4 linked regions of the Homo sapiens genome follow. The protein of the gene in region 3 purifies or fractionates together with the protein of the main gene of each other region. This does not show direct contact. Each region holds a gene or a part of one and is shown on either strand. Other genes may lie near its edges. The genes, in order: AFG2B, NMT2, PRPS2 and PRIM2.

What was found.
Region 1: the proteins of PRPS2 (region 3) and AFG2B purify together in Homo sapiens (affinity purification with mass spectrometry; 2 studies listed by BioGRID and IntAct, with this or other methods). This does not show direct contact.
Region 2: the proteins of PRPS2 (region 3) and NMT2 purify together in Homo sapiens (affinity purification with mass spectrometry; 3 studies listed by BioGRID and IntAct, with this or other methods). This does not show direct contact.
Region 4: the proteins of PRPS2 (region 3) and PRIM2 purify together in Homo sapiens (affinity purification with mass spectrometry; 3 studies listed by BioGRID and IntAct, with this or other methods). This does not show direct contact.

What each region holds. Positions count from the first base shown.
Region 1 is NC_000015.10:45,398,328-45,405,357, forward strand, and holds the start of AFG2B (ATPase family gene 2 protein homolog B), read left to right. Parts: upstream 1-4,008; 5' UTR 4,009-4,102; coding exon 4,103-5,191; intron 5,192-6,992; coding exon 6,993-7,030. UniProt on the Homo sapiens protein: ATP-dependent chaperone part of the 55LCC heterohexameric ATPase complex which is chromatin-associated and promotes replisome proteostasis to maintain replication fork progression and genome stability.
Region 2 is NC_000010.11:15,105,237-15,109,695, reverse strand, and holds the end of NMT2 (glycylpeptide N-tetradecanoyltransferase 2), read left to right. Parts: intron 1-480; coding exon 481-501; 3' UTR 502-2,997; coding exon of another isoform or gene 2,998-3,009; 3' UTR 3,010-3,926; downstream 3,927-4,459.
Region 3 is NC_000023.11:12,787,245-12,794,415, forward strand, and holds the start of PRPS2 (ribose-phosphate pyrophosphokinase 2), read left to right. Parts: upstream 1-4,167; 5' UTR 4,168-4,253; coding exon 4,254-4,375; intron 4,376-7,171. UniProt on the Homo sapiens protein: Catalyzes the synthesis of phosphoribosylpyrophosphate (PRPP) that is essential for nucleotide synthesis.
Region 4 is NC_000006.12:57,320,610-57,327,644, reverse strand, and holds part of PRIM2 (DNA primase large subunit), read right to left. Parts: intron 3,445-7,035; coding exon 3,365-3,444; intron 1,721-3,364; coding exon 1,600-1,720; coding exon of another isoform or gene 1,582-1,599; exon of another isoform or gene 1,278-1,581; intron 1-1,277. UniProt on the Homo sapiens protein: Regulatory subunit of the DNA primase complex and component of the DNA polymerase alpha complex (also known as the alpha DNA polymerase-primase complex) which play an essential role in the initiation of DNA synthesis.

The sequences.
Region 1 (7,030 bases), on a different chromosome or scaffold from region 3:
TAAAAAATGATGAATCAAGCAATTTCCTGAAAATGTGCAAGAACAGACTTTCAGAATGATGTTCTATGAACTGTAGTCTGCAGGTCATTTGAAATCCAGCAAATATTTTCATCCTCCTTCTTCTGATTCTATAACTTATTCTATATCTAGAATTACTCTAAAGACTAATTCTAACCTGGATACAAGATAAAAAGTAAAGATGGAAGATTCTAAAGAACAATTTTAACAATGTCCCATTTAGGGGGATTTTCATTACATACTTTATGAACACAGGTTCGGCATATTAGCTATCCGTGGAAATAAGTCACTTACTACATCTACATGAGCATGTTGAGATGAAAGTGTTTGCAAATCATGCTTTTTCAAGGGTGGCTAAACAAATCTCTATTCATCTATTACAACTCATAGTCATTGCTAATGTTCAAATATATTAGGGTTGAACATAACACAAAAATGGAAATGCTGGAAAGATTAACATTATTTAATCTACAGATGACTCATGCTACTGGTTTAACCATTTTCTTTAGATTTTTTTCATATACAGGAATATATTTTTATATACATATATAATATGCTGAAGGGACAAAAATATTGCATGATCATTATCCTAAAGAAACAGATTCCAATTATTTCTTTTGAATTATAGACTTACAGTTAATTAAGAATTTTTATAGTTAATTAAAAATTAGACAGATTGTAACCTTGAATGTAACAAAGGACATAAAGAGAAACCATTTGTCACATGTACCTTTTCGGGAAAATCTCACAAAAGATTTTGTTTGGCAAAGCTATTTGAAACAATTTAAAGCTAGAAATGTTTCTAGGCTATAGCAAGATGAATTCCATCGGTTTGGATTTTGACCTACCACTAAATTTTGGATTTAGGAACAGTCTCATTTTTATACTTAACACAAAAATTAAATTTTAACTTAGAAACTGAGTTTTACACAGCTTGAGGCTTGTGAAAAATTATGTGAAAATAAGTCAGTTACTGCTAGGGTCTCAGTGTTTGTGTCCTCCACAAAATTCATTTGTTGAAATTTTAACCCTTGAGATGATGGTAGTAGGAGTCAGGGCCTTTTGGGAGGTGATTAGGTCACGAGAGTGGAGCCCTCATGAATGGGATTAGTGTGCTTATAAAAGAAACATGAGGGAGCTAGCTAGTCCCTTCCACCATGTGCAGGTACAATGAGCTGTCTCTAGACAGGGGGCCCTTACCAGTCATGGAATCTGCCAGTGCCTTGTCTTTGACTTCCCAGCCTCCAGAACTGTAAAAAATAAATTGCTGTCATTTATAAGCTACCTCGTTCGTAGTATTTTGTTACAGCAGCCTGAACAGACTAAGCCAGATAATATATAGAGACAACAGATGGCTTCATACACCTAGGTGTGAATCCTGGGAAAATTGAGTGGAAACCACAGTTGAGAACACCAACGTCCTAACAATCCTGTAGCCTTCAGGCTTAGTTGGTTCTGGACTCCCTCTAGTGGTTCAATTCTAGTGCTTTAATTGATGTTCTTCAATTCATAGAATTAACAAATTTCTGGTCAGATTAAAAACAACTAAGCAAAAGAGCCACACAACTCCCATTAGAATGGTTTACCACAAGGAGGCCAGGTGCAGTGGCTCATGCCTGTAATCTCAGCACTTTGGGAGGCTGAGGCAGGTGGATCACTTGAGGCCTGGAGTTCGAGACCAGCCTGGCCAACAGGGTAAAACCCTATCTCTACTAAAAATCCAAAAGTTAGCCAGGCGTGGTGGTAGGCACCTGTAATCCCAGCTACTTGGGAGCCTGAGGCAGGAGAATTGCTTGAACTTGGGAAACAGATGTTGCAGTGAGCTGAGATCCTGCCATTGCACTCAAGACTGGGTGACAGAGCAAGACTGTCTAAAAAATAAATAAAATTTTAAAAATAAAAAGAATGGTTTATCACAAGGAGATTATGTCATTGAATGGCATGATAAATATGGATGTTCAGATGGCTGAAATCATAGTGTTGCAAATGGTTAGACCTAAAGGGACAGAATGGATTTTACTGGATGATTGGGAAAGACATTTATAGTTTTGCTCAGAGTGAGTGGATAAGAGCTGAAGGCCCAGTAACAGAATTCCTTGTTGCTTTTGTTTGCAACCTATGGTAAAGACTGGATCTTTTAGAGAAAGAGTGAAGTGAAATAATATTTCCTGTGCATATGGATTCTATAAGGTCAGAGGGTTCTTGTTTGACCTTGTATAAAATCAACCTCTTAGACCAACCAAAAGCAACATGTAGTTTCCTTCTCATCATATTCCTAATAGCATAGTTTGTGCCTCTGTTTTAAACCAATTCAGAAAATTTTGAGGCCGATTTAACTTTATTGGCTCCCTGTTTTGGCTTTGGTTATTCCACTCCATTAAACCTTTACTTCTTGGCCATTTCTGCACTGTAAATATAAGTAAATCTACTAACTCTTTTACATGAGATCCCTTTACATATTTAAGACAGTTATCCTGTCCTCAGTAAGTCTTCTTTCCCTCTCCCAGATCCTTAAAGCTTCTTGGAGCTGAATAGAAGGAACTCGATGAGGTACAGGCTTCTGATAAAATAACTTGATAGGCATGTAATTCACACCTTTAGGGGTCGGTAAAAACGATGGCTTTTTTTTTATTTCAAAAAATGCAAAGCTGTTATTTAAAAGTCCCCAAACCAAAAAGAACTGAAGCCAATGGGATTAAGAGGAAAAAAGAAAACAGGAAGTAATGGGTGACTTATCCATTTCAAGACCTCCTCCTGCTATTTTCTGATTCCTAAATTGTTCCAGAATCGATTTAAGCAGACAAGTACAGCTGAGACCAGGTAAGTTACTGTCAAGTCAAGAAGTCTGTCATGTCTGCCATGAAGTTTGGACAGAATGAGATCAGGAACTGGCATGGGTCTTAAGATCCCAGATCTGACAGTACTTCCCATTGATAAGATATTACTACACAGTCTGTAATTGATTATTTGCATAGATAGAAAAAAAAAACTTCCCAGCAACTTAAGCACTCTAAAATATCAGTTTTGTCAACTCACAAATTTGGGTTGCAGTGAAAGTGGGGAAAATAGAGGTAGGAAGATGTAAGTCAAATAAAAACAAGGTATATCTTCTTGTCTTTGAGTATCTGTAGTTCTTTTTTAACGGCAATTAAGAGGGATAGAAAATGTATTCCAGCTGATAAAAAGGAATTCCCTGTGCGAAAGGGAAAGGCAGAAAGCAGCTGGAAAAAAAAAATAGCAGGCAGTTGTCTTAATAACGTAGATAGGTATCGCCTCTAATACAGGACTTAGTACTGTTGTGCCCCAATTAGACAGTAAGCATTGATCGCATGAACTTTAGTGATTAACTTGTTGCCAAAGAATATTCAAAAGAATATCAGAAATCAGAACAAATGTACTGTTGGTGTGCTACAAATCCATCAGGTAGCCTAGTTTTCCTTCTTTCCTCTCTACAAGGGATTTTAAGCGCTACCGTGTGCTTCCCTCCCACTATGCTGGTACTTTCCCATAGGAAGGGTTGTGCCTGGACCTCCCAGATTGGAACCCCGATTACCGAAGGTCCCAAGGCTGTATTCTCAGTTACGCCAAGTCACCTGAGACATTTGCACCAGAGCACCCAAAATTCTGTGCCCATGCGGATAGTTAGAGTTTCTTCACAAAATAGCAAAGTCTCTAGGTTGCTATTCCAACGGCGGTAGTACTGATGCTCCAGTTCGAAGGCCAGGAAAACAGAATGTAAAGCCGGTGACTTCCAAGATATATGTAACCACCAAAGTACATGCTTAATGACCTAGTGAAGTGAGCTTAAGCCGCCTCCCAGACACCTGTAACGAAGACCATCTCGGGAAAGCTCTGGGTTAGGCAACTCGATTTCACGAAAGCGGACACCAACGCTCTACCCAGAGGCCCGAGCGTCGTCTAACGTTTCCATTGGCCCTTTCGGCCTTCACTCAGCTGCTAGCAACGCAGTCTGCCCTAGCGCATGCGCGCAATCTGCTTCCGGCCTGCGAGCTCGGTGTTCCGCTTTTTGTGGGCCGGGTGGGTTTCCTAATCTGGTTTCGTCTGCCTGGTTCATCTGTGTGCGATGGCTCCGGACTCGGATCCCTTCCCTGAAGGGCCGCTCTTAAAGCTGCTACCCTTAGACGCTAGAGACCGGGGCACCCAGCGCTGCCGCCTGGGCCCGGCCGCCCTCCACGCCCTGGGCGCGCGCTTGGGCTCGGCAGTGAAGATCTCGCTACCCGACGGCGGCTCCTGCCTCTGCACTGCCTGGCCTCGGCGGGACGGAGCGGACGGCTTTGTGCAGCTGGACCCGCTGTGCGCGAGCCCCGGGGCGGCGGTCGGGGCGTCGAGATCCCGGAGGAGTCTCAGCCTGAATCGCCTCCTCCTAGTGCCCTGTCCGCCCCTGCGGCGCGTCGCCGTGTGGCCGGTGTTGCGAGAGCGGGCAGGCGCGCCCGGTGCCCGGAATACAGCCGCGGTGCTGGAGGCGGCACAGGAGCTGCTGAGAAACCGACCGATCTCCCTGGGCCACGTGGTGGTCGCTCCGCCAGGCGCTCCTGGCCTGGTGGCTGCCTTGCACATCGTCGGCGGGACGCCCAGTCCCGATCCCGCTGGGCTGGTCACCCCTCGTACCCGCGTCAGCCTTGGCGGGGAGCCTCCGTCGGAAGCCCAGCCGCAGCCCGAGGTGCCCCTGGGAGGTCTTTCGGAGGCGGCCGACTCGCTGCGGGAGCTCCTCCGCCTCCCGCTCCGCTACCCGCGCGCCCTGACCGCGCTGGGCTTAGCGGTGCCTCGCGGGGTGCTCCTGGCGGGGCCCCCCGGAGTGGGCAAGACCCAGCTGGTGCGGGCCGTGGCGCGCGAGGCGGGCGCGGAGCTGCTGGCAGTCAGCGCCCCGGCGCTGCAGGGTTCCCGGCCTGGGGAGACCGAGGAGAACGTGCGGCGGGTCTTCCAGCGCGCCCGGGAACTGGCCAGCCGCGGACCCAGCCTCCTCTTCCTGGACGAGATGGACGCCTTGTGTCCCCAGCGGGGCAGTCGAGCACCCGAGAGCCGCGTAGTGGCCCAGGTGTTGACGCTGCTGGACGGCGCCAGTGGGGACCGCGAGGTCGTGGTTGTGGGAGCCACTAACCGGCCGGACGCTCTAGACCCAGCGCTGCGTAGGCCCGGGAGATTTGACCGAGAGGTGAATGGGCTTGGCGGGTTTGCCCACTGTCGGTGGAACCTCGGCCGCTTCTGGCGCCATTTGGCTGCCCCGGAGGCGTTTGCCTCTTAGGTTTGAGCATCGGTGAGGTTGGAGTTGGGGCTCTTTGCAATGCAGAGAACACGTTCTCTGCCGATATATGATCTGTGAGTCAGGACCTGTATTTCCCCAGAGTCAAATTGTCAGGACCTGTGAGTCAGGATCTGAGAGTCAGGACCTGTTTCCCCAGAGTCTAATTGTTTTGGGAAGCGAGGTGTCCATTACAGATTAATTTTGTTGTGCAGGTCCTATAATCAGTAATGTTAATTCTTAAGAGAATTTTGGTCACCTACAAGCGTGTTAAACTCATTTTTTGGAATGAGAATTTAAAGAAGGATAGCCTCAAGAAGTAAGTGTGTTGAAATAAAAAGGGAGAAGGTGGGGAAGAACTAAATGGAAGCAGGCATTAACTCTTCTGGATTTATTCATTCCTTGTCATAACACCAGCATCCTATTCCACAATTGAGGAGGTACCCACAACTGCTCCCTGAGTTGTCAGGGAGGTTGAATATTCAGAGCTGTCCTATTTTAAGCTTTGGTCCTAAATTGACTTGAATTCTAAAGAACAGTTTGAAATTTAGTGACTGATATTTCTATTTTGTGATAGGATTCAAAAGAGAAATGATAATTACACACTTTTAGCTCAGTTAGTTCAGGACTTGAGTGGATTTCTTCCTTGCACTATCTAGTACCTGTGTCCTTAAGGGCAGGGACCTAGCTATCTATACCTGGCTTCTAGAACTTTGTGTGTTCTTAAAAATAACAAAAACTTGTTAAATGACATAGAATTTTCATTGTGCAACTTTCTAGCCAGTGTTACTCCTCTGGAATATTAGGATTTTCGTATATTCAGAATCTAAAGTATACGTAAAGTGCACGGTACTAGTTCCAAAGTGGTTCACTAAATTGTCGTACATGTTTGTCAGGATAAAAAACATATTATTATTTTGGCCGGGCGCGGTGGCTCACGCCTGCAATCTCAATACTTTGGGAGGCTGAGGTGGGTGGATCACCTGAGGTCAGGAGTTCGAGACCAGCCTGGCCAAGATGGTGAAACCCCGTCTCTGCTAAAAATACAAAAAATAAGCCGGGCATGGTGGCACATGCCTGTAGTTCTAGCTACTCTGGAGGCTGAGGCACCAGAATCACTTGAACCAGGAGGTGGAGGTTGCAGTGAGCTGAGATGGTGCCCGCTGCACTCCAGACTGGGCAGCAGAGTGAAACTGTGTCTCAAAAAAAAAAAAAAAAGAAAAAAAAAATATATATATGTATACACACACATATATAAAATTTTTTTGGAAGTAATTCTTTTTTAATTGATCTATTTTTATTGATACATAATTGTGCATGTTTTGGGGTACATGTGATATTTTGGTACATGCATACAATTTGTAATTATCAAATCAGGGTGCTTAGGATATCCATCACCTCAAACATTTATCATTTCTTATCTGAGTGTTGGGAATATTTCAGATTCTCTCTAGTAGCTATTTTGAAATATACGAGAAATTATTGTTAACTATAGTCACCCTACTACACTATCAAACATTACACATATTCCTTCTACCTAACTGTATGTTTGTACCCATGAGCCAACCTGTCTTCATCCCCTCACCCCCAACCCTTCCCAGTGTCTGGTTGCTATCATTCTGCTGTCTACCTCCATCCATGAGATCAACTTTAAAAATAATATATTTTAAACTATATACTTCTTCTTCTTTTTTTTGTTTTGCTTTGCATATAGGTGGTCATTGGGACTCCCACACTTAAACAAAGAAAGGA
Region 2 (4,459 bases), on a different chromosome or scaffold from region 3:
GAAATGGATATAGCCCTTGTAAACTCAACAAATGTACCTAGACAATTTCATACTTGCTTCACTTAGACTTAAGACAGCTTTATTTTATTTTTGTTCATTTTATTTATTTATTTATTTATTTTTTTGAGATGAAGTCTCGCTCTGTCCCCCAGGCTGGAGTGCAATGGCATGATCTCAGCTCACTGCAACCTCCGCCTCCCAGGTTCAAGTGATTCTCCTGCCTCAGCCTCCCGAGTAGCTGGGATTACATCCACCACCATGCCTGGCTAATTTTTTCATTTTTAGTAGAGATGGGGTTTGACCATGTTGGCCAGGCTGGTCTCAAACTCCTGACCTCAGGTGATCCGCCTGCCTTGGCCTCCCAAAGTGCCGGGATTACAGGTGTGAGCTGAGCCTTAAGACAGCTTTTAGAAAGACAGATCTATTGTACTACATTGCAATCTAATTTTTCTTACTATTCCATTTCTTCCCTCCCTTCAGGTTGGACTAGTACTACAATAGATGGATATTTTTATTTCTAGAACTCTGACATCATCATTTGTTAATATTTAATGATTTCTGGAACTGCCATTCCAAAGAAGAATAAAAGCACAACTCAAGTGAAATTGAAGTAGTCGATAATCAGAAAAGATGACAAAAGTCCACATGTGACATTTGTACGTTTCTAGCTAGAATGTTAAACTTCATCCTTTTTTTACTGTTGACCTATTTGTGGGAGGGATGAAAGGCTACAAAGAGCACATTCTTGTAATTTTCAAATTTTTGCCTGTCTCTTGAAGAGGTATTTTTTCACCCTTAGAAAAGGGACTGTTTTTCTATGGACTAAGTAGAAGTTACAGAGTCATGTAAGAAAATCTTTGCTATTGTGTGGAGAGAAATTGCTGCATTTCTGTTTCTTAAGTGATGGTACATTTGTCCATGTAACAGAACAAAAGATCCATTTGGAAATTTTTTTTACTGGTATCACCTTACATGGTATCACTGGGAACATTTATGGAATCAACACTTCTGTAGCTCAGTGACAGGTGGTGGTTGTTTAAGTGCAGAGCAATATTAAAATGTACTGGTGACTAGTACATGTATTTCTCCATAAGCAGAGTTGCCGAATCAATAAACATGCAAGTTTGTACTTTGATCTTTACCAGGTCAGTGGATTGCTTCAAAAGCAGAGTTTTGTGCAAGCACTCACTGTGCTCTCTGAAAGAGCCTGAGGCCGGGCGTGGTGGCTCACGCCTGTAATCCCAGCACTTTGGGAGGCCAAGGTGGGCAGATCATGAGGTCAGGAGATCGAGACCATTCTGGCCAACATAGTGAAACCCCATCTCTACTAAAAATACAAAAATTAGCCGGGCGTGGTGGCGTGTGCCTGTAGTCCCAGCTGCTTGGGAGGCTGAGGCAGGAGAATCGCTTGAACCTGAGAGGTGAGGTTGCAGTGAGCCGAGATCGAGCCACTGCACTCCAGCCTGGGTGACAGAGCGTGAGACTCCGTCTCAAAAAAAAAAAAAAAGAAAGAGCCTGTACCCGCGACTAACTAGACTTTTCTGCTGTTGTGCAAAGTTCAGTTTCTTCTCAGCAACATCAAGGATATATGAAGAAAAGGAAATAAAAAACTGTAAAGTCAAAAGAGATGCCTGGTGGAACTTATTCGTGCTATCAGGGCATTGATAGTTTGAATGTTTTTATTACTTATGCAAAATTGCACATACTCCTCTATGCTGATTTTATCATGAAAACTGTCATGTGTCATGCTAATGGAAAATGTCTTATTTGTAAATAAGTATTCATAATTTTGTTACTGATGGTGTTTTTAATCTAGAATTTGAAAAACTTTCATGGCTTACAGATGTGTGTTTATATTGCCAATAATCTGCGGGAAAAATAAGATGCTAACCGAGGCCACGTAGCCTGGCCTCAACTCAGATACCACAAAGTAGATGCCTTGGCTGGGTGTGGTGGCTCACGCCTGTAATCCCAGCACTTTGGGAGGCCAAGGCGGGCGAAACATTTGAGGTCAGGGGTTCGAGACCAGCCTGGCCAACATGGTGAAACCCCATCTCTACTAAAAATTCAAAAAGAACTAGCTGGGTGTGGTGGCGGGTGCCTGTAATCCCAGCTGCTAGGAGGCTGAGGCAGGAGAATCACTTGAACCCAGGAGGCGGAAGTTGCAGTGAGCCAAGATCGTGCCACTGCACTCCAGCCTGGGTGACAGTGCAAGACTCCGTCTCAAAAAACAAAAGTAGATACTTTTCCCTGCTTTTACTGGGCCAGTGCCTAGGAAGTTCAGTGCAGAAGTTAATTGTTTTAGACATGATGGCATTTCCTTCAAGTTATGAGTCCAGTGAAACCAATCATATCTTATCCCAGGCAGGGGCCACCAAACTATGGCCTGTGGGCTAAATCCAGCCCATTGCTTATTTTTGTGTAGCCCACAGGCTAAGAATGTTTTTATTTTCTGGAATGGTTGAGGAGAAAAAGCCAAAAAATGACATCATTTTGTGACATGTGCAAATTACACAAAATTCAAATTCCGGTGTCCCTCAATAAGGTTTTATTGGAACATAGCCATACTTTTTTTTTTTTTTTTTTTAGGACAGGGTCTCACTCTATTGTCCAGGCTAGAATACAGTGGCACAGTCAACAGCTCACTGCAGCCCCAAACTCCTGGGTTAAAATGATCCTCCTGCTTCAGCGTCTTTTTGAAGAAAAAGAACTAGCTGGGCGTGCATACCACCACGCCTGGCTAAGTTTTTCATTTTTTGTAGAGACAAGGTCTTGCTATGTTTCCCGTGCTGGTCTTTAACTCCTGGCCTCAAGTGATCCTTCTGCCTTGGCCTCCCAAAGTACTGGGATTATAGACATGAGCCACCACTCTTGGCCACAGCCACTTTCATTTACATATTGCCTATGGCTGCTTCACACTACAAAGCTGAGTTGAGTTGTTGTGACAGATTGTGTGGCCTGCAAAGCCTAAGATATTCACTCTCTGGTCTTTTACAGAAAGTTTGTTGACCTTGGTCACTACGAAGGAGTTGGAACTCTCCTTTCTATAGGTTGCCGTGATTCTAAAGACCAACCCACAGCTGTGACATCCCTGAGACTACCACCAGAGGGCGACTGGGCCCCACAGTAGTACATAATATAGGACCTCTCTTGGAGATAATGGAAGACTTGGAATTTCAGATGGTTCCACCCTAATTGCATTAGCGTTCTTTCTTAACAGGAGAAAGGCTTCAAGAAACAAAACAGTCCTCATTCACTGGAACAGGGTTTGAGATACCAGCATTAAGTAAATGAGATTTTGACTTAACCTGGAGTCAAGGCTCTAATTTAGGACTTTACTTCCCACTCATTTTCATGCCACAAAGTCTATACAAAGTAGGTTTTCAAATAATTGCAGAATCAGCCAGGCACGGTGGCTCACACCTGTAATCCCTGCACTTTGGGAGGCCAAGGTGAGCAGATCACTTGAGGTCAGGAGTCTTGAGACCAGCCTGGCCAACATGGTGAAGCCCTATCTCTACTAAAATTACAAAAACTAGCCGGACATGGGGGTGTGCACCTGTAATCCCAGCTATTCAGGAGGCTGAGGCAGGAGAATCGCTTGAACCCAGGAGGCGGGGTTGCAGTGAGCCGGGATCACACCACTGCACTCCAGCCTGGGCAACAGAGTGAGACTCTATCTCGAAAGTAAAATAAATAACTGCAGCATTGCCAGTTGGAAACTTTGTCATGAGCTTACCTCACGGTGACAGTTACACTGCTCCTTTAAAGAGTCATTTACATAATTTGTTATCAAATTATTAACCACTTTTAAATAGAATAATAACTACATTTGCCTCCATAATTGAAGCAGATTACTAATTAACATTTTCGAGAATTAAACTGCTTGCTTATGAAGTAGCTATTAAAACTAAATTGAAATGCAATGGATAGTTTCTTGTAGATTTAAAACTGCATTGTACTGTACTTTGTCTATAATGAAAATGTTCTATTCAATAAGGTATCTTTTTTTCTTCTTTTTGGCCAAGATGGCACTAAGTAAAATTTAAATCGAGAGATGGCATAATCCATGAGTCAGCCAGACTTTCAGCTGGAAAAATCTTTAGTAAATACCTTCCTTCTAAATTACAGAAAGTAACTTTTCCATACACACTGTAAACAGCAGACACTCTAACAGAGCATCGGTTATGCTCCATCTCCTAACCTGAAGGACTCTTGTCACACACCCACCTCTGAGAACCCAAGCTCCTCAGTTTTTTTAATCTTTTGGCCACATTTCATCCAATTACCATCATACCTTTTATACGTTAGATTTCCAAGGAGGTAAGTGAATCACGTAATGGGGGTGAACTGTACCCAGTCAAAATAACCTTATCTGACTTTTTCTATATTTTTGATATTTTTTCTCTAAATATTAAGTCTTTCTCCCAAGCTCATGTCTATTCCTTCCTAAAAGTCA
Region 3 (7,171 bases):
AAAGAAAAGAAAAAAAAGAAAAGAAAACAAGAAAAGAAAAAGAAAAGAAAAAAGAGAAGAAAAAAAGAAAAAAAGAAAAGAAAAAGAGTTTTATAGTTTTAGCTCTTGCATTTAGGTCTTTGATCAATTTTAAATTAACGTTTGCATACGGTGTGATGTCTTTATCTTTTTACAGATATATGCAGGCTAAATAATTTAGAGGTGAATATATAACATCTGTAATTTACTTTAAAATACTTTAGATAAAAACAGATAAAGCAAACATGGGAAAATTTTGACAGCTACAAAATCTAGGTGGTGGGTATATCGGTGTTCACTCTATTTTCATCTCGGTTTTTGGATTTTTCTTTAAACAACAGAAGTAAAAGGTAAAGTTCTAGAAATAAAAATCAGAAAAATTACTTGATTCTGAGTGAAAATGTTATTAATAGAGAATTAAAGTTGAATCTATTTTAACTTATTTTTAAAGTACATTGCTTATAAATGTTAGCATTTCATAATAAGTTATAAATTATTTGCCACACCCCTAATAAAAACATACAAGAAAAAGGTTATGTCAGAGTGTCTTGGCATTGCTCTTAGGAACTAGTGTTCTAGAACTTCTTGTTCTAATACAGCAACTATCAGCCACATGTGGCTGATGAGCACTTCAGATATGGCAAGTCCAAATTAAGATGTGCTGTAAGCGTAAAATCTATATTGGATTTTGAAGGCTTGACACAAAAAGATGCAAAGTAGCTCATTAATATGTTTTATGTTGATTACATGTTGGAATGATAATATTTTGGATATTGGATTAAAGTGTATTATTAAAATTACCTTCACTTGTTTTTTATATTCTTTTAAAATACAGCTACTAAAGTGTAAATTACATATGTGGCTTGCATTATATTTCTTTTTAAAAAGTTTAAAATTTTTTCATAGAAACATATAGGAAACAATCATTACATTTCTTTTGGATGGTACCATTCTAGAGAGAAAAGGACTGGACTAGAAGATCCACATTCTAATTCCTTTGCTGCTTTCAACTAGCCATGTGACTTGGGGAAATTTCTTCCGTTTCTCAGCCCTAAAATAGTCAGGGATAAATTCACTCAGCAAATACTTAGACTTCTTACTATATACAAAGAACTTGGCTAGATGATGTGGGAAATAGAAGACGTGAAACTGTTCATAAATTCAAATCATTGTTTTACCGTTAATCTCTATCCATGAGTCAATGAAGATAGAAATCAACAATAGAAAATATCTCATCATTTTAATTTTTTCCACTAACATTTTATCTTAAGATAATGTATATTTTATAAACGGTCTGAGACCCAGATCACATATGCACAGAGTATATGTTCTTTTTCTCTTCTAAGTCTTGGGTCTTTGAACAAGTGTTCCATTTTTCCAGAGGCTCCCCAACTTCAAATGTTGTTCAAGAAGTGCACTGTGGTAGACAGTTGGTGGACAGTACTCATGCCCTCCAGTTGTCCCATACCATGTTGACAGCTGGTCTTGGCCATGTAACTTGCTTTGGTCAATGAGACATTAGCAAGCAAGTTAAAAACAGAGGTTTGATAAGCACTTGCTCATTGAGACTTATCTTCTTGGAACACTCCTTGGAACCTTGCAGCCATGCCGTAAGGAAGCCCAAACAACCATGAAGAAAGGCCCACATGGAGGAGAGAAGGGCCAGGGGTTCTTTCAAACTAGTGATTCTCAACCTGTGGTGATTTTGCTCCTTGTAGGACATTTGGCAATGTCTGGGGACACTTTTGGTTGTCACAGTGGTGGATAGGTGCTACTGGCATCTAGTGGGTAGAGGCAAGGGAGGCTGCTAAACAATCTGCAATGCACAGGACAGTCCCACAACAAAGAATTACCCAGCCTAAATATCAGCTGTGCTGAGGTTCAGAAACCTGCTCTAGACCAATGTTTCCCACAACCTGGCTCCTATGGATCAAGGATAAAGGCATTTGGGAGAGAAAGTTTTCACACTTAAATAAAATTATCTGTAGCTGCTCATTTACAAGTGACAGCTTTCTGAACAGTCTGTGACTCATGATGATTTTTCAATGATTCCCATTAGTATTCTCATCAACCCCAATGGCACATTTCACCTTGTTTACATTTAGCATTTAAGCAGAGTAACTCATCAAACTATTGAACCAACAATCATTGTATTAGTTGCCCCAACTGAGATATTGTTTCTCCTTGGTGCTATCAAGTCCATGGTTTGTCACAATTCAATCCGAGCTTCCAAATCTGCAGCCATTTACCCACCCAAAGACCAGGGGCTTTAACTTTTACTGTTTTATAGTCCATCAGCTTTGGTTCTGTGTTACCAAAGAACCACAGCCCCATCATGCTAAGAGGATGCCACTTTCCCTTTGAGAAGAGCATCTATATATTTAGAAGAAACCATTATTAGTCAATTTTATCTATGAGAGAAATATTAAGAATATAAAAATTATAGTAATTTGCTGATAGTAAATTTTATTAGAAGAGTTTAAATATAACTACATTAGCAGACTCAATAAAAATTTTAAACATAGTGGGTCAAGTATAAATCTCATTGCTATGGTAATTAGCTGTGAAATACATAGATAATAAACCATTGCAGATAGGGGTTTTTGTTTGTTTTCTCACATAATAGGGCACATATGCATCTCTAGGCGGAATGAAAAAGGGCCAGAAATGCTGCTAAAATTGTCAGTTTGAATAACTTTTTGATAGGCTGGCAGATACAAAAGTTTACAAGAAACACTCGATGTGCCAAGTAATCTCCTTGCAAAGTACAAGGACCCAGATGAAAAATCCCAATGATGCGAATCATCCCTGTAATCTCCCAAATCCCATTATGAAGTCTGATTAGAGTAGGCTACAACCCAATTGCAAGTGGGCTTTGCTGTTGATGGAGAGCCAATTCGTGGCAAACATTAGTAAAACCAAGCCATTTATCTACCCGGTTGAATCAGCCTTTGTTGAGGAGTGTGAAACTGTGACCAGCATCACCAACCAGCCCTCTATAGACAGGGACTGCTTTCCTTTCTCCTACACTTGGTTTGTGCCCTGAAGTTGGCTCTGGTACTGCATTGGCATCTTGAGAAAACCTTTTTGCTGGTTTCTAGCAGGAAAGAGAGGAAGGAGGCCCTGACTCCAGGGATGTGGAGGGACTGAGCTGGATTGTCTAGGGAGATCTGTGTTCCTGGGATCAGGCCCTTGAGCACCCAACAGGCAGAAGGTTGTGAAGTGCCCCAAGGACCATCACATCTACCGAAAAATGGTGAATCTGGGGGACTTGGTTTGATCCAGTGAGCCACCAAGAGCAATACTTCCCCTCAGCCTGTGATGAGGACTCACATAGTGGTTGGATTTTTTAAGGACACATGGTGCAGGGGCAACTCTGTAGTTCAGGGGTCATCAAGTTTGAACTATGAGGGACCACATGGCCAATATTTACATTTTGCAGACCAAGCAAGAAAAGGGAAGATATTACGTAGGAACTTACATAACAAGAGAGAAAAAATTGTCACAATGTTTTTATTGATATAATCCAAAATACGGTAATATTTGAGTACAATTATTTGCAACTCACATCTATTAATGAGAGAAAAGGAATTCTTTTGCGGGGGGGATATTTCTCTTAATTGGAGTTCAAAGGCGGTGTCTGCTATCATCACATAAAGTGCAAATGTTCATGTATGAAAACCATGCTTAGCTCTCTGGTACAAACACAGGGAGCTCTCGCGATCTGGCCCATAGGCTGTAGTTTGCAGACCCTTGCTATAGCTGAACACCAGTCGCCCACACTGGGTTTGCGGTGTTCCGGGGTGGGAAGTCGCTCCGGGCTGCGAAGCACCTCGAGGGATCCCCCCGGCCCGAACTCTCCCTCTGTGCCCAGCTAACCGCGGTTCATTGGCTCTCCCCGCGAGGCAGGTCTGGAAGATCAAGAATGAAGCTCGGAGCTCTCTCGCGGAGCAAGGACACCTTCGGGCTTCAGGACCACCCAGGGCGTCCAAAACTGCTGCCAGGGCTGTGCCCCCGCCCCCCGGCACTTTCCAGCTCCCCCTCCACGCCCGCTCTTCCTCCCTCTCTGCCCCCTCTAGCTCCTCCTCCGGCTCCTCCCCCTCCGCTCCTCCCCTTCCCTACATCTAGCCGCCGCGCTTTCCCGCTCCCGCAGCAGCAGCCTCCCGCGTCGCTGTCGCTGTTGCCTCCGCCACCTCCTCCGCCGCCGCGCGCCCCTCGGAGTTCCGCGCCCCACCATGCCCAACATCGTGCTGTTCAGCGGCAGCTCGCATCAGGACCTGTCCCAGCGCGTGGCCGACCGCCTGGGCCTGGAGCTGGGCAAGGTGGTCACGAAGAAGTTCAGCAACCAGGAGACCAGGTGGGGGCCGCGCCGGCGGCCGGGCTAGGGAGAGCGCTGGGCACGCGGCTGCGGGGCCGGGTTGGGGGCCGGCGCCTGCCCGGGCCACCTCCGCGGACGCCGCGCTCCCCCTTCCGGGGCGGGACGGTGGCAACGCGGCCTCCGCGCCCCCGCGCCCGCGCCTGCGAAGAAACCGAGGCGGGGCGCCGCGCGTCCCGATGCGCGCCTCGGCTGTGCCCCCGGTTGCAGGGCCTCCGGTCCTGGGACCGCGGCGACCCGGCGGTCCCGAGCCGCTCCCGGCCTCCCAGCGGTGCCGCCCGGCCTGGCGTCCCCAGCCCGGAAGGGAGACGTCTGGGCGGTCACAGACCGTCGGGGAGAGAGTGGGCGCAGCGGGCGGGAACCGCATCGGGTCAGCGCGCGGTGGAGAGACGTCCTGGGTTGGCTGGTCCCAGTTTCCGCGTCCCTACAAAGCTGAACCTCAGACCAGTGCGTGCGACTAAAGGTTTCCCCCCGTCCCCAACTCTGGTTGCACGCTGGGTTTACCTGGGGACGGTCCGAACGCTGCTTCCCCCGACCTGCCCCCAAGGGTTTGATCCAACGGGCGGAGGATCAGCGATTTTACAAGCTTCCCTGGCTTCTCCTGAGCAGCCAGGGCGCAGACCACTGCGTTATCCAGAGGGTGCAGTTGTGCCAAGGTTTGAAAGACTGTGAGAACCCCAGGACGCACGTGCTGGGCTCCCCTCTGCTCCCACTACTCTTGCTGCTTTAAAGATGATGGACTTTCAGCTTCCTTCTTGTTCTAGGACTCTGCTGTGTCCAGCAACAACGCCGTGATTCGACTGTAACTTTCACCCATTTCTCAAGTCCAGGAGAGCCTCAGGTGGTGGCCATCCTCGGAAGCTGACCTGGGGGGCTCCTTTGTCTATCTGCCTGAGTCCACACAGCTCCTTGACTCATTTCAAATTGGTCTCATTTTTCCCCCTTCTTCCTCCAATGTCTAGTACCGTTAACTGTCCACAGTTACTGATAATTTTTATATCTTTGGCAAAGGTTCAATTTTACCAACATTTTCTAGAAATGGTGTTGGAACAGTTGGACACCCATATGCCAAAAAATATGAACTTCCATCCATACTTTTCACCATTTGTAAAAATTAACTTTGAAGTGGATCATAGACCTAATTGTAAAATCTAGAACTATAAAATTTCTAGCAGAAAATCTTGACTTGGGGTTAGGCAAAAATTTCTTAAGGAGGAGTTATGTTAATACTGATGGGGAAGATGCTATATTTTGGCAAGTCAGCTTTTTAGGATATGTGAATCTTACGTGACTTCTTCCAGGTGGCAAATTCCAGTTATGGCTCCGATGATAATATAAGCGAAGAAACATTGTGAATGAGTGGCAGGTGGACTTTGGCTAAAGAATTCCACTCTGCAGTGTTTAATGCAGAAGTCTGAGAGGATGGTCTAGGGCTCTGGAGAAGGATAGAGCTAGGTTTGAGTGTTGCAGTATTTTGCCAGTCTTGTTCAAGTTTCAGTCGCTGTAAGAACACGAGAAGAAGAATAGTTTTTGTTCAGAAGGTGTCGTCATATAAGTAAAGGAGAAATTTGTTGATGAAGTAAATTTTGAAAGCAAATATGTTGCCCTTCCAGGTACTCAGTGCAGCATGATCTTTTGCTAAGGAGCATGGTTAATCTAGATCAGTTCACTGCTAAGTCAGTGTTGAGTTTCTCCTAAAAATACCACATGTGCCACTGGGCAAAACTCACTCAGACACTGAAGTATGATTGTTTATACATTTGGTTCAAATATAAAGCAGACTCACTTTTATTTTGTTTTTGGCATTTTATAACCATCACTTGATAATTAGAAATCGTGGGACCTCAAAAACCACTCAGCATGAAGTTTGGGAATTGCCTATATAGCTACATTTTATGTTTTTAATGTATAGAGTATAAAAGGTTCACTGCCTGACTTTTCTCTTTTCCATGAACTGTACAAGTACAGAGCTTAATTTTTATAAACAGCCCTCTCTGGACCAGTTACTGTGCTAGGAATCCAGCTTTTAGCTGTGTAATCGTAGAGAGGAAAAACTGAAGGGCAAAATGAAGACAAAATTGATTCAGTTCATGTAAGGGCCCCTTCTTGAATCTGTCACTGAACTAGGATCAGAAATCTGGTTTGCTGTCTCCTGGCCATCAATCCTCCCATTTTGCGTTTTTTATATGCTACTTTACTGAACATAGAGCCTTCCAATTTTACCTTCTTATCCCTAAATCATTTCAGATATGCAGGGAGAGGTCCGCTCCAGCTTCACTATAGACCATGGAAATTCCATGATGACATCTTAGGACAGCAGGTGTCTAGATGTCTCTGTTGTAACATTTTACTATGGTCAGTTAACCTGCTGGCAGAATCTTTAGCTATACTGTGAGACAAGGTTATGCAAAGTTATACAAGGTTATCGGTTACCATGTAATAAATAAAGAGCTTAATGGCTTAAAACAGTAATTGTTGATTTGGCTTACAAATCTGCAATTTGGGAAGGGCTCAGTGAAGAAAGCTTGTTTTTGCCGCGTATGGTCACAGCTGAGGCTGGTCACAGCTGAGGCGGCTAACTGGGGCTGGAGGGTTCTTGAAGATGGCTCACATGACTGAAGTTGTTACTAGCTTTTGCCTGGGAGCTTGGTTAGGAACCTCAGCTCCTCTTCTTGTAGGCCTCTCCATGGGGCTGCTTGAGCTTCCTTACAGCATGGAAGCTGGGTTCTAAGAGCACATGTTCCAAAAGACAGGACATTGAAGCCACCAGTCCATTAA
Region 4 (7,035 bases), on a different chromosome or scaffold from region 3:
AGTTAAAAGCAAAGTGGAAGATGCAGTGGGTTTGGTTCAGATGGTACCATGCATGACATCTGTCTATGCAAAGGTAGATGTGACTTAGAAACCTCATGAAGTAAATGAAAGAAACTATAGAAACTGCCTACCTAGCATATATTTGACACTAAACGTCTACAAAATGTTTGTTCACTTCCCTTCACAGTCTCTTTTCCCTAACTCATATACTCCATAGTGTTCCTTGCTACAGTGGATATGTCTTCTACTTGTCAGACAGGACAATGTCTTTCACCTATTGCAACTTCTACTTTTTTATTTTATTTGGCTTTAAGCCACGCATTCCAACAACAAAATAGAGTCTCTGCCAGTCCTACTACCATCTGACTGCTCTAAAACTTCCAAAACATAATGTTTCTACATTCCCATTGTGGCATATATCTACCTAAAAGACATAAATTCTAGGCCCGGCACGGTGGCTCACACCTGTAATCCCAGCACTTTGGGAGGCCGAGGCGGGTGTATCACCTGAGGTCAGGGGGTTCAAGACCACCCTGGCCAACATGGCAAAACTACGTCTCTAAAAATACAAAAATTAGCCAGGCATGGTGGCACACACCTGTAGTCACAGCTACTCAGGAGGCTGAGGCAGGAGAATCGCTTGAACCCAGAAGGTGGAGGTTGCAGTGAGCCGAGATCAGGCCACTGCATATTCCAGCCTGGATGACAGAGTGAGGCTCCATCTCAAAAAAAAAAAAAAAAAAAAAAAAAAGATACAAATTCTATTTCCAATACTCATCCCCATTAAATGAGTCCCAAAGATCTCTTCTTTTTTTATATAATTACAATATGTAAATCATTCAGATATGTCTGCAAAATTATTTTTTAAAACTATTCATACAGATCTTACTGACATTTTTGATTTATGGTTTTTATTTTTTTTTTGAGACGGAGTCTTGCTCTTTCGCCCAGACTAGAGTGCAGCGGCATGATCTCAGCTCATTGCAACCTCCACCTCCCGGGTTCAAGCAATTTTCATGCCTTAGCCTCCTGACTAGCTGGAATTATGGACGCGCAGCACCATGCCTGGCTAATTTTTGTATTTTTTGTAGAGTGGGGGTTTCACTATGTTGGTCAAGATGGTCTCGCACTTTTGACCTCAAGTGATCTGCCCACCACAGACTCCCAAAGTGCTGGGATTACAGGTGTGAGGCACCACGCCCCGCCTGACAACTGACTTTTAAATAAAGTATTACCTCCTCTAAATTTCACGACTATAAATAAGAAACTACCACTTGTCTAGTTTAACACATTATTAGCTTTATTTTGGCCGACAAAATTTTGGTTAAAGATGAACCTTTATAAACTAAACCTTCTTGTGCTTTAATAAAGCACACATTTAACAGAGCAAGTAAGTGTGAGACTTTGTTATTAAGGAGTCCTTTTCTTCTAGTCATAGAGAAGGAAAGATATATTGTTATCCAAAGCTATTAGCTACTGTTTCAGGCAGGTACTTGGAGAATGTAAAGAGAACACACTACACATTAGTACCAGCACTTAAGACAGAAGGGAAAAATGAATGGTGAGAACAATTAGAAATAACTACAAAAATATACTTACAGCCTCAAACTGCAATTGGCTATCCTTTAAGAAATCCTGAATTTTATCCTTGGGTAAAATACTAAATCTAAATCGAAGGAGATCCATTTCTTGTTGAATGAACCAGCGTCTAAGTTCTTCACTGAAATGAAGACAGAAATTATGAGTACAAACTAAAAATCCAGTAATTATTAAATCTAAGAAATGTTTATAAAACAATATTCAAACATCAGCAAGATGCCAATGGACAGCAGTTAAAAACATGCAAGTCCTCTATCACGGTAAGGAGAATATCAATACCACATATCACAATCTTCTAAGGATGGGTTGGGTACAAGGTATAGGGGGTGTTAAAAATTAAAAAGATTAAATACAAGAATGCTTCGAGACTAGCTGCATTATTTTTAAATAACATAAAATACTTCATGCATTTAATGTAACTGCAAAATATTCATTTTATGTTAGAAAATAGGGGCTGGGCGTCGTGGTTCATGCCCGTAATCCCAGCACCTTGGGAGGTCAAGGCAGGCAGATTGCTCGAGCCCAGAAGTTTGAGACCAGCCTGGGCAAGTTGGTAAAACCCCATATCTACAAAAAAATTAGCCAGGCATGGTAGCATGTGCCTATAGTCCCAGCTCCTCAGGAGGCTGAGGTGGGAGGATCACCTGAGCCCACGGATGTTGAGGCTGCAGTGAGCCGAGATCACACCACTGTACTCCAGCCTAGGTAATGGCATGAGACCCTAGCTCAAAAAAAAAAAAGAGAGAGAGAGAAAAGAGAAAAAAAAAAGAAAATGGGGAAATGGGGCACTCCTTTGGCTTGAGGTGTCTTTATAAATGCCAAATAAAAGACACCAAATTTTTTAAGGCAACTTTGATCAGATTAACTTTGCAAAGGAAACTTTGCTTATGGCTTTATAATTGATAATTTCACAAAATTTAATATGCACATATATACCACAATATTTAAAAGCAATAACGTTCATTTATAAGGCAGATACTAATGGGCATTATCGTTATATAATAAAATAATTACCCTACTGGATGCAAAATATGATTTCACATTTTTAGGAGATTTTCACAGATTGTCAGCAACATATTTATTATATAAATTTCACAAACTACATATGCTTTTTTACAGAAGAAAAACTCTAGAACCAAAACTGGTAAGTAATTTCTCAATTATTATCTTGGGATAGTAAGCAATTCCAGAGTCTCACTTGATAAGCTTATTAATTTTAAAAAAAGACAGCCATAACTAAATTATGTGACCAAAATTAACATGTGAGGGAAAAACAATTTTTAAAAAAGCAACTAACTTTACTACCTCTGGGTGGCACTATTAACTTAAAAGAAACCAACTACCAAACAAAAATATCTTCGATTTAACTGGCCCATAGAGCTCAAATTCCAAAAACCTGTATCAAATTCAAGTGTGGGTTTCATTAATTGTTTCTTATAAATATTACCATTTTTTTGCAGGAAAAATATCAAAAGTCCTTCTTCCCAATAAAATCCTTTCCAATTTAAAATCCCAAATGAAGAGTCTATCTCACAAACTTAAGAAGTGTTTCATCAGGCAAAATTCTGCGATAGAATTTTTTTCAATATTTTTAAGTAAACAATTTCTTCCAAACAATTTACTGTCAGTGTTCAACCCCATGATCAACCGGCTCCTGATGTTATTCTGGGTTTTCCTATGTTTAGCACAACACATCAACTTACCACACACCAATTTATAACCCATGACACCAGATTTGACTGTGAGAATATAAACATATACTTACGACTGGCAATAAGCAAGCCGCAAAATAAAATGAGAAATATGATCTCTTCTTCGTGGTTCATATTCATCTTCTAAGTTTTCCTTAAAAATAATGACACATGAATAAAATAAATGCATTAGAATGGTAAGAGGTGTAAGGAAATACTGAGCCAGCCTAAGCCAATGGTAAAGTAAGTTTCAAAAACATTTCTTTTTTTAGAGATGGGGTCTTGCTCTACCACCCAGACTGGAGAGTAGTGGTCAATCACAGCTCACTGTAACTTCAAACTCCTGGGCTCAAGTGATCCTCCAGCCTCAACCTCCCAAGCAGCTGGGACTACAAGCGACACCCACCATGCCCCGCTAATTTTTTATCTTCTGTATGATGGAGTCTCAATATGTTGCCTAGGCTGGTTATGAACTCCTGGTTTCAAGACTCCTACTCTAGTCCCTCAAAGCACTAGAATTACAGGCATGAGCCACCACACCCAGTCCCAAAACATTTCTTTTTTTTTTTTCCTTTTTACTTTAAGTTCTGGGATACATGTGCAGAATGTGCAGGTTTGTTACATAGGTATACGTGTGCCATGGTGGTTTGCTGCCCGTCATCTAGGTTTTAAGCCCCACATGCATTAGGTATTTGTCCTAATGCTGTCTCTCCCCTTGACCCCAACCCCCTGACAGGCCCTGGTGTGGGGTGTTCCCCTCCCTGTGTCCATGTGTTCTCATTGCCAAAACATTTCTTAATATGCTTTTCAGGATAATTATCATTTACCTTAAGCTATCAATCAGATGAAACCGAGAAGTAAACTAATCTTGACAAAACCCCTTGAGTTTGGACCGCACTATTTTCTTCCCACCAACCCCTCTCTTTTAATTTTCTTCTTATCCAGCCTATATCCAAGGTGCTCACCACCTCAACCACTTCTTACACCAACCTCAGCTTCTTTAATTTCAACCATTTGGCAAAACCTAGATTCTTAATCTACAACTACACTCTGCAGTCCTATTCTCAAAATGCTAAGAACCTCTGGAGAAAAAACACAACTATGGGAATTTGGAAAATATAATTTCGTGGCCTATAATCTCAACTAGATCCTTACCAACAGTTGGATCCAAAATAATAAGAACAAACATGTCTTGAGCACTCACTAGGTACCAGGCGGTGCCCTAAGAATTTTTAAGGCATGAACCCATTTAATCCTTTAAAAAAAAAAAAACCCTATGAGGGAGGCACTACTATAATCTTATTTTACAGATAAGGAAACTGAGGCACAGAGAAGTTATGTAACTTGTTCAGGGTCACAAAGCTTGTCCAGAGTAAGCAGCAGTGTTGAGATTCGACACAAAATCATCTCCTTCCTCACTTCTCAGAAAATCGTCAGTCTTCACCAGTTGTCCCAAGACCCCTACTATAGCACCTTTCCCTTCTCTCTGAACAGATGACTTCACCTACTTTACAGAAAATAAAGGCTACCAGGCAGAATCCTTCAGTCCCAAGCTTCCGCATACACATGTTGTGTTGCCTTCCATACATCTCTACAAAGCATCTCCTCTTCCTGGCATGTAAAGCTACATTAGTCCATTCTCATGCTGCTAATAAAGACATACCCAAGACTGAGTAAACCCATAAAAGGAAAGAGGTTTAACTGACTCACAGTTCCCCAGGGCTGGGGAGACCTCAGGAAACTTACAATCATGGCAGAAGGGGAAACAAACACGTCCTTCTTCACATGGTGGCAGTAAGGAGAAGTGCTGAGCAAAATAGGGAAAAGCCCCTTATAAAACCATCAGATCTTGTGAGAACTCACTATCTAGAATAGCAGCATGGGGGTAACCACCCCCATGATTCAATTACCTCCCACCGGGTCCCTCCCATGACACATGGGGATTATGGGAACTACAATTCAAGATGAGATTTGGGTGGGGACACAGCCAAACCATATGAAAAGCTAATTCCTGCACCTAAACCCCGCAACCCATTTGCTTGTGCCTCTTAAAGACCCTGACTTATCAAATGCTCTCTCAAAGTTTCAACTTCAAGCTCCCCTCTTCCCCATTCTATTCTAGATCTTCTGCTCAGCTTATAAACATGTTTAAGTATCTCCTGTCATATATGTACAAGTGTGTGCTTGTATATCTTCTCTTTTCCCTAAAACAACCCCTATATTCTGCCCTATTTCTCTTCTCTTTTCAGCTACACATTTTAAAAAAGTACATCTTCTATATCCACCGCTCCACCTTCCTTCTCCAACCACTGTCATTGTTCTGGTCTCTGCCCCTATCTATAAGGGCCCATCCAGCTGCTAAATCCAATGGACACTGTACAATTCATCTTACATAATCTATCTTAAGCTTCTGAAACTATTGTGGTTAAAAGCACCACTACAGAAACAAAATACCCAGATTCAAATCTTGGCTCCACCATTTACCATCTTATGAGCTTGGGCAAGTTATTCAGTCTGTGAATAAATAGGCTGTATCTGTAAAATAGGGATGATAATAATACCCACCTCATAAGACTGCTGTATGAATTACATACATGGGTTAATATATGTAATGCACTTAGAACAAAATCTGGTACATAGCAAACATACTATTAATATAAATATCTGCTGTTATTCCCTATTATCATTATTAATATCATGATCATTATTATTGAAACTCTAGCCCTCCTTGGCTTCTATGACACTACTATCCTGGTTCATCTCCTACTTCTGAGAAAGCTCCTTTCCATTCTCCTTCCCAAATTCCTCCAATTCCACTTTACCTTCAATATTGGTATTCCTCATGTCTTAACTTCCACTGTCATCTCTTCTCACTCAAATATTTTTCTAGGGTGCTCTTACCTACTCCTGATGATTCCAACCTTCTGCTAAATCTACTCCCACCACATGTCTTCCTGTATATTCAGACCTGTATATCCAATTGTCCACTAGACATCTCCACAGGCACCTCAAATTCATGTTAAGAACTAAACTCTACGTCTTCCAAGACTTGCTTCTCCTCCTGCATATCACATCTCAAAATATTACCACCATCCACTAATTTTCCTAACTAGAAACCTGGGTGTCATTTATAACTCTTCTCTCTCCATTCCCCCTACAATCAGTCACTAAAACCTTTTGATTCTACCTTCTTAATGTCTCTTCAACCGGTCCCCTTCTCTCATTTAATTCAGACTCTCATCATTTCCGGGCTTCTAACTGGTTTCCCTCCTAACAGACATGACCCTGTCAATCTGCTGCTGGCAGTCATCTTCCCAAAATGAAAATCTAATCACATCTGTCAACATGCAGCTCCACTACTACCTCTTCTGGAAAGCCTTCCCAAACCTCCCCAATCTGAGCTGCATAATTATGTATGTTTTTGGAGTTCCTGGAGCATGCATCTATAAACACAGTCATCATCCTGTATTGCACGGGATACATTTGGCATGTCTGGAAATATGTAGGGGTAGAAGCCAGAGATGCTACTGAGCATCCTACAGTGCACAGAACAATCCCTGCAACAAGGAATTATCAGACCCAAAATGATGTTAGTCCTGAGGTTGAGAAACCCTGCCATATTATAATCATCTGACTTCATGTCAATCACCCCTAATACACTGAAGAACCTTCAGGCTAATGATACATTAGTCTTTATAAAAGCCCAGTGCCTAATATAATATCTTTCCCACAAGTGACACTCAAT